Regions from separate parts of the Homo sapiens genome. Here region 2 is linked to region 1. The links come from fine-mapping of genetic effects on gene expression. A gene starts in region 1. The other region holds a variant in brackets. All regions are shown on one strand. Distances are between the middles of the regions. Region 1 holds the start of SLC75A1 (solute carrier family 75 member 1). Region 2 has its middle 21 kb from the start of HTT.

The links.
Region 2: its variant is fine-mapped to the expression of SLC75A1 in whole blood (TOPMed, PIP above 0.99).

The regions. Positions count from the first base shown.
Region 1 is chr4:2,932,892-2,937,302 of GRCh38, forward strand. It overlaps SLC75A1 (solute carrier family 75 member 1), which reads right to left and starts at 1,934. Exons shown (of 13, transcript NM_001146069.2): 1 at 1,878-1,934; 2 at 862-1,053; 3 at 676-772; 4 at 215-318. The coding sequence starts at 1,032. NOP14-AS1 (NOP14 antisense RNA 1) reads left to right here and starts at 2,655. Exons shown (of 4, transcript NR_015453.2): 1 at 2,655-4,411. RefSeq lists enhancers at 175-404, 425-554, 647-1,514, 2,772-3,971, 3,774-4,013 and silencers at 1,355-1,574, 1,804-2,113, 2,274-2,383.
Region 2 is chr4:3,052,001-3,056,213 of GRCh38, forward strand. It overlaps HTT-AS. Among named protein-coding and RNA genes, the nearest start is that of HTT, 21 kb to the right of the region's middle. The variant C/A (reference allele first, on the strand shown) is at 1,754.

The DNA.
Region 1 (4,411 bases):
TCAGTGCCTTCCTAGGGGCCAGGAGCAGCTCCTTGAAAGCCTGGCTCTGGAACAGGAGCCACTGGTCCCCCGAGAACCCCCTCCAGGATGCGATGAGGGCCAACCAGTGGCCATGAGGGGCCCACAGCCACCTCCCTCTCCCCACCTAACCCCATGGGGCTACTGGCTGGGTGGGAGGAGGCTTCCCCATGGGCACCCAGGCCCAGGAACATACCAGGCACAGCAGCATCACCGGGCGCCTCCCCAAGCAGTCAGAGGTGGCCCCAGTGAGTGGCGCACACAGAAACTGCAGGACAGAGAATGCCGAGCCAATGAGACCTGAGAGACAGATGTCACCATCATGGGGCTGCCTGGCACCATGAGCTGTGGTCTTGGGGCCCTCAAGGCCAATGTCCAGCCCCGTCCTGAGGGTCCAGTCATGCTGGGCCCTACACTCACAGGCCATGGCCCTTGAGCCGAGGGGGCCCCAATGGAGAGATGAGGAAGGATCTGAACGTGACACGCGGAGGCAAGGGATCATGCCCAGAAGCCAGGACATGTGGGCAAGGGCACCAGACATGCCAGCCCAGGGAGTGGGAAGGCAAGGACCGAGAATTGGGGAGGGGCCTGGGCTGGACCACGTCCACCAAACATAGGACCGTAGAGAGCCCGCCAAGGGCACAGAGCCAGCCATACCTCCGAACAGGACACTGTTGTACCTCTTCTCCACTGGCATCCCGATGGCGGTGGCAAACCAGTCCACCCCGCCCTGCCAGGAGCCATAGAGGGGGTCCTAGGGGATGAGGAATCACGATAAGGGCTGGGGAGGTCTGATGGGCCTGGGGGGCAGGGGGCACTGTGGGCCGCAGGGCAAGGACTCACGTGGGCACGGCCGTGGCTCTCCAACAGCCCGGGCAGCAGGGGCAGCAGCAGCGTGAAGGCCAGGAGGTCCAGCAGGAGGCCGAGAAAGACAACGGTGACCACGCGGCGCTCCGGCGGCTGCTGGTGGATGGGTGGGCGCGGGGTGCAGCCTCCACCCCCTCCCCATCCCATGGTGGGCTGCTCTGACCTGGCCTGGGTGGGGTGCGGCGGGTCGGGTTAGCGGGGAAGCCGAGTCCTCCGGGGCCTGGCATACCCCCACACCCGACAGCCGGCGAGCACCCTAAAGGGGCTGATGGCAGGGGCTCTGGCCTACGGACGCAGGGGCCGTTCTGGCCTGCGCGATGCCCCCGCCCCGAACCCAGGCAGCAGGAAACGCAGGCTTCGGGGATTGCACAAAAAATAGCCGCAAAGGCAACGGTCCTGAGAGACCAGGGTGAGCACATCGCGGACCTGGCCCCACCCCACCCCACGGCCGCGCCTCCCACGCCCTCGTAACAGCGAGAGAAAACTTGAAGCCGCGGGGAACCCGGATCCCGATCCCGATCCCGATCCCGATCCCAACCCCAACCCCAGCCCCGGCCCGCGCCCCGCGATTCCGGCCCCTGGCCCGGACTCGGTCTCCCTGGCGGGGGCCATGGGGTGCACACCGGACGCAGGAGCACCCCCAACCCCGCGCGCCTCCCACTCCGCCATCCCGCGTGCGTCCCGGTCCCGCCCCCACCCCGCGCGCCCCCGGTCCCGCCCCCCACCCTGCGCGTCCCCGGTCCCGTCCCCCACCCTGCGCGCCCTCTAACCCCCACGCCGCGCGCCTCCCACCGCCCCCACCCCGCGCGCCCCTGGTCCAGCCCCACACCCCGCGCGCCCCCTACTCCCCTACCCTGCGCACCTCTCACCCGCCCCACCCCCGCGTACCCCGGGTCCCGTCTCCTCCCCCACCCCGCGCGTCCCCTGTCCCACCCCCAACCCGAGCGCCCCCTACGCCCCCCACCCCGGGCGCCCCCGGTCCCGCCCCGCACCTGCCGCGGCTGCGCGCTCGGGACGGACGGTCGCACAGACGCGGAACAGGGCACCAGGCACGCCGCCAGGGGCGGGACGGCCACGCCCGGCCACGCCACGCCCCGGAAGTGACGTACATCTCTGCACGTTCTCTTCCGGCCGGAGTCAGTGGCGGGGTTCTCGCCGGTCCTGCGGGTCGCTGCTTGGCTGTGGGTTAGCAGCACCCTGAGCGGAGCGGAAGAGCTGCCCGCCGCCGCGTAACCCCGAGGCCGAGACTCCTGGCCTGGCCTCCTTGGGCCCACGACGCCTGCCCCGCGGAGCGGACCCATGGGCCTGAGGTTTGTGTGCGGGGCCTCAGGCGAGCGCTGGCGCAGCCTGTCCCCCATCGTCTGCGCCCTGCGGGCCTGGCCCTCCCCGTGGAAGGACCGCGGGCTTCGGGGCCCCACGCTGGGGGGCTGACTCCTGCCACACACACAGCGGTGGCCGCGGGCCTGGGGCGGCAGCACAGCCATTCTGCTCGGGCTGCGTGAGCTGACCCCGCTCTCTGTGCACCTACTTTTGCTGCGTTTGGTGCTGAGCCTGAAGTCCCAGGACAGGCGGCTGAGGGGGAAAGATGGTGTGAATTGGGTGGGCAGAGACAACTGAAAGCCACAGGACCCGGTTGGCACCTTTTTGGCCGCCTGCGCCTTTGCCTGCAGCCCCGCTCCCTGGGTCACCCGAAGGAGGAGCTGGCGCTCTTTCCGGGCGCAGAAGCACCCGACCCACGCTGGAGGAAACGGTCCCTCTGGGCAGGAGAAGCTTTGGGCCTGGCTGGAGCACACTCACGGAACCACGCCAACGCCTGGCCTGTAGCCAGCTCCCACCTCCCCTCCCACCTTCTAAAATGCTTGCGGATCTCACGTGGCCGACCCTAACCAGATACACATGGGGAAAGGAATCAGGTGGCACACATACCGCCTTTACTCCATAGAGAACTTCCAATTGTGGGTAAGAACAAAGCCCCACCTCTTCCTAATAGATGCAGTTTTCCACCTGCAGCCAAAAAGACAACCTGTTATTAGCTTTTTTCCCAGAGGACAGGCATCTCTATGAAACTGCCATTGCAAAATTTGCCGACAGTGAGATAACCAGCTCCATTTTGCTTCTAACCTCCATGCCCTCCTTGTTTACTGCTGCACGCAGGTTGAACTGTGGGAGGAACTTAGTTTAAAACAAAGATGATAACAGCCCTTTCCCAAAGGAAACCTTTCCTGGGGATTAGCCTGCTTTTGTGGGACCAACAGATTAGCCACAAGATTAGAAACTACGGTTGAAGAGTCACGCAGCGGGAGGCTACAGGATTCTGACCCTCCCCAAACTGCTCCTGGCGATAACATCACCATCGTAAAGCCTAAGATCAGCACTTGGTGGGTCACCTGGCACCACCCAGGCTCATCTGATGTTGTGGCACCCAGGAACTGACTCAGTGCGAAAACAGCTTCGACTCCCTGTGATTTCATCTCTGACCTGACCAATGGGTACTTCTGACTCACTGGCTGCCCCCCACCCACCAGCTTATCTTTAAAAACTCCAAACCCCAGATGCTCAGGGAGACCGAGTAATAATAAAACTCCAGTCTCCCACACAGCTAGCTCTGCGTGAATTACCTTTTCTCTGTTGCAAATGCCCTTTCTTGATAAATTGGCTGTCTAGGTAACAGGGAAGGTGAACCCACTGGGCAGTTACACTTTTATCCACCCTTCCAGCTGGATCACGCGCCCTCTTCAATGACATGACACGCAGCTAGAGTGTATGAGCTTGCTGCCGGCACCTTCCGTCCTGGATCGCATAGCAAGGCCTCAATGGACAGCCAGGTGCCTGGTCCGGTCCCACTTTTTTTTCTGTCCTGTTCTCGTTTCCTCTTTGCTTGGCCAAAGAGGGTTGGGCCAGGGTCCTGAGTGCAAAGGCTTGGCTTGGTGAATTAAAGTGGCAGTAGCCGTGTGGCAGAGAAAATTTGTAGATGGGTGAAATCCTGGGCCTACACAGTGACAAAGTGTATATAGACAGCCAGCCTAGTTGGTGGATGTGACAACCCCAGACTCTTCTAGATTTGTGGATCCGTGCACCTGCCAGACCTGTCTCTGAGCCATCTGGGGAGGCTGGGTAAGATTTCCCCCGTCAGGGCCTGAGCCTCATCTCCAAGCTGCTGGCTTCAGCCCAGCTGCCACCAGCGCTGTCTCTGTCTTGCGCTTTCCAGAGAGAGACTGACTCATTTTGAGCTCCAGGCCTACCAGGCAGCCCAACCGCGGCAGTAACTGCCTCTCACACTGAGGATGGCTCATGCTCTGGTCCAGCCATGGCTTGAACACCTCCCAACAAGAACAAAGCCAGACTCATTCTCCCTAGCATCTTCTTCCTTGCTCAAAGATCCCACACCCCGTTAGAAGCTGGAACTGGGTCCTTGTCACCTTCCTCACCTCCCCAGTCGTAGTCTGGTTAATCCTTACATCTCACCACGGTCACCGTGGCTAGATGTGACCTCCGCGATGCTTCAGGCACGTACCAGGGCAGCCTG
Region 2 (4,213 bases), 120 kb after region 1:
GGGTTCATGTCATAGTTAGCTCTACAATCTATCTTGAGTAGTTACGAGGCTTTGCCAGCTGAAAATTAACTACTCTAGACTCTTTCTGGGAAGGGCAATGGAGACTGCCCAGTGCTATAGTTCAGTGGTGATCTGGGTTTGATTCCTGGCTTAGGGAATGAGTACTTTCTAATTGATATTTGGGTAACCTTTGCCATTTTTTGATTTTCTCCCCCTCCACAAACTGTCTTGAATTGCCTTTCTCAGAGCACCTGGGAGGTTACTTTCAATAGTTTAAAGGCAGGAATATTGGCTGTTTGGCCTGATGAAAGTTGGGTAATAAGCAATTTAAAAGAACTTTTATTAAAGAGTGCAATGGTTAAAAGTCAGCTTAATTAAAAGTAGATATTCTGGCTCTAACAGCCTGGGACTCCTTGGGAAAACAGGAGGTGCCAGAGACCCCGTTTTGGGAAAAAACTCTGTTTTACTCATGAAACCCCAGAAATTGGAAGTAGATAGATTCCTTTCAAAATCTAAGGCTCTGTTCTGTTTTGCATTGGATTATCTACTGTTTTTTACTTGGGGGTATCAGAAATTACTTCACATAGAGACTTGGTGTGTAATAACTAGGCAGGAAATATACTTTAGGGATGTCTAATGGCAGTTATGGGGCTGACTCCCTCTTTTTTGGGGGGGATCCAGGATCTGGTATAAAAACGAGACCTCAGGCTGGGCATGGTGGCTCACGCCTGTAATCCTAGCACTTTGAGAGGCCGAGGTGGGTGGATTGCCTGAGCTCAGGAGTTCGAGACCAGCCTGGGCAACATGGTGAAACCCCACCTCTACTAAAATAAAAATAAAAAAAAATTAGCCGGGCATGGCGGCATGCGCCTATAGTCCCAGCTATTTGGGAGGCTGAGGCAGAAGAATCGCTTTAACCCAGGAGGCGGAGGTTGCAGTGAACTGAGATGGTGCCACTGCACTCCAGCCTGGTGACAGAGCAAGACTCCGTCTCAAAAAAAAAAAAGAGACCCTTAATTTTTGGAGATCCGTTTTGCCTTCCAGCTGTGCCTGCTTATTATATTAGGCCCTAGAAACTGCATGCTTTCCTGGTCCTGTTCTTCCAAGGACTCCATCCTAAAGCCAGTAATCCAATTTAGAAACTTAGAAAGTGGTAAATGAAAAATCTTACAACTATTGGATCTTCTTCTGTCTGTCTGTGTAGTTATATATGTGTTGTGTGTTTAATGTTTATATAAAAGAGCTCTAATTGCCAGGCACATTGGCTCACGCCTATAATCCCAACACTTTGGGAGGCTGAGGTGGGTGGATCGCCTGAGGTCAGGAGTTCGAGACCAGCCTGGCCAACCAGGCGAAACCCCGTCTCCACTAAAAATACAAAAATTAGCCAGGTGTGGTGGCGCATGCTGGTAATCCCAGCTACTCAGGAGGCTGAGGCAGGAGAATCACTTGAACTCAGGAGGTGGAGGTTGCCCTGAGCCAAGATTGTGCCACTGCACCCAAGTCTGGATGACAGAGTGAGACTCTGTCTCAAAATAAAAATAAAAATAAAAATAAATAAAAGAGCTCTAATTAATTGGCTTTAAGAAAAATGAGTGCTTAAATCAAATATTTTGAAAGAAAAATAAAAACTCTAATGCCTTTTAGTGCATGTAACTTCAGTAATCTTTGGGAAATAAAAAGTTTTAAAGGTTACTGGTGAAAATAAAGACATTTGGCCTAAATTAGGCAGGTTAGATATTAGGTTTGCTAA[C/A]TTCTTTTTTTTTTTTTTTTTTGAGATGGAGTTTCACTCTTGTTGCCCAGGCTGGAGTCCAATGGCGTGATCTAGGCTCACTACAACGTCTGCCTCTCGGGGTTCAAGCAATTCTCCTGCCTCAGCCTCCCGAGTAGCTTGGATTATAGGCATATGCCACCATGCCCAGCTAATTTTTGTATTTTTAGTAGAGATGAGGTTTCACCATGTTGGCCAGGCTGGTCTTGAACTCCTGACCTCATGATCCCCCCGCCTCCGCCTCCCAAAGTGCTGGGATTACAGGTGTGAGCCACTGCACCCAGCCAGGTTTGCTAAATTTTTTAAGGTCATAAACTGCTTTGACTTTTCTAAATTGTTCAAATTATTTTGGAGCATTAGATTCTAGATAAGGCCTGCGGACATGTGGAATTAGCCATGCCCCCAGCTAGGCAAAGAAGATTACAAAGAAAATAAATTTTATATAAGAAAGGATCTCGTATGGTAAATTCTTGCCCTAAAGTAAAATAACTGGTTGTTTAAAAAGAGGGGTGTTTAAAAAGAGGAGTGTTTAGGACAAGTGAGAAAGTCCAACCATGCCATAGATGGCCTGTGTAAGTTGTTAAAGGATTTGTGAAATTCATGCACCAAAAGTAAAAGATGCTAAGAGTTACCATTATAACATGTAATTGAAACTACTAAAAAAATAGTTTTACATGCAAGGTGTGTGAGGAGAGTGAAATGTGTTTTTGGTAAAAGATTATAAGAAGGCATGGGAATGTAAATTTTTGCCTAGTTTAGAGGGTTAAAGGGTTTTTAAGTTAGATAAGATAAAGCTAAAAGTTTGAGCAAATTGTAGGTTTGTAAAAATTAATCTTGTAAAAGAAATTCTGTGTGTGAACATATTGACTAAATTTAAAGGAGTATTATTCATTTTTTCCAGAAATTGAACATTGAAGTAAAAGCACAACAGGGTTTTCTTTTCTTTCTATTTTTTTTTTTTGAGATGGAGTCTCGCTCTGTCACCCAGGCTGGAGTGCAGTGGTGCACTCTTGGCTCACTGCAACCTCTGCCCCCTGGGTTTAAGCGATTCTCCTGCCTCAGCCTCTGGAGTAGCTGTGATTATAGGCACTTGCCAGCACGCCTGGCTAATGTTTGTATTTTTAGTAGAGACGGGGTTTCACCATATTGGCCAGGCTGGTCTTGAACTCCTGACCTCGTGATCTGCCCGCCTCCACCTCCCAAAGTGCTAGGATTACAGGCATGAGTCACCACGCCTGGCCAACAGGGTTTTCTTAAAGCACTGTTCTGCTCTTTCACAAAAATTGTAAGGGCTTGGCCAGGTGTGGTGGCTCACACCTGTAATCCCATCACTTTGGGAGGCTGAGGCAGGTAGATCACGAGGTCAGGAGATCGAGACCATCCGGGCGTGGTGGCGGGCGCCTGTAGTCCCAGCTACTCAGGAGGCTGAGGCAGTAGAATGGCATGAACCCAGGAGGCAGAGCTTGCAGTGAGCTGTGATGGCGCCACTGCACTCCAGCCTGGGCAACACAGCGAGACTCCGTCTAAAAAAAAAAAAAGTCTCAAACTAGCCCTGGGTTGGGCCCTGTCATCTTTAACCCATTTTTAACCCAGAGGGACTTTACTGAGGGGAGGGCCTCTAACCCAATCCCATGCTTTACTTAGGTAAAATGTACCCCATTACTTATTCAAAGTCAGCCAATTTGTGCTGCAGCCTATCTCCTTTGGATTGCGATAGTAACTAAGCTAAAAGGTTAGCAGATTTGATTTTTGGGAGCCTTCATTTTTAAATGCATGTCAGTGCACTGTTGTTCATTCAGAATGTTCCACTGTAGTCATCTTTAGTAAGATTTCACCATTTCTGTAAGACTTCACCACTTTCCATGCCTAACGTGTAAGCCAGAAGGAACCCAGTTTTCCGGAAATTAAGGAACCCATTTTTACCTGAATATTGGCTTTACGCTCAGCTTCCCTTGATTAATTTAGCCAATGATTTTTTCCTACCTAAGTGTGCAAGAAAAATGAAACAAAGGGGTAGAACACAAACATCCCCACGAATTTTCAAAAGCCAAATTTTACACCCCCTGCAATATTACCATTTTCTACCAGTTTCTTTCAGACCCAGTCAGATGTAAGAGGCCTCTAACTGGATCCAGGCCGGTTAATTACCGTATCAAATCTATTCCTGGACCCATCCATTTTCTTTGGCGACTTCCAAACCCAGTTTGGATCAGAAATTTGCACAAAGAAAACTCAGAGAGCTCGAAACACAAACTGTGGATCTCCAAAATCCAAGAGAGGACTTATCCATGATCCCCAGCTGCTCTGAGAAATCAATGGACACAAGTGTGTCCAGCAGGTACCTTACTTGTTCACTCAGTGCCCCAGGGGTCATTAGAAGCTTTACTTTGGATCCCACTTCTGACACCATGTTAAAAGAAAAACTTCAGCCGAATTAAATTT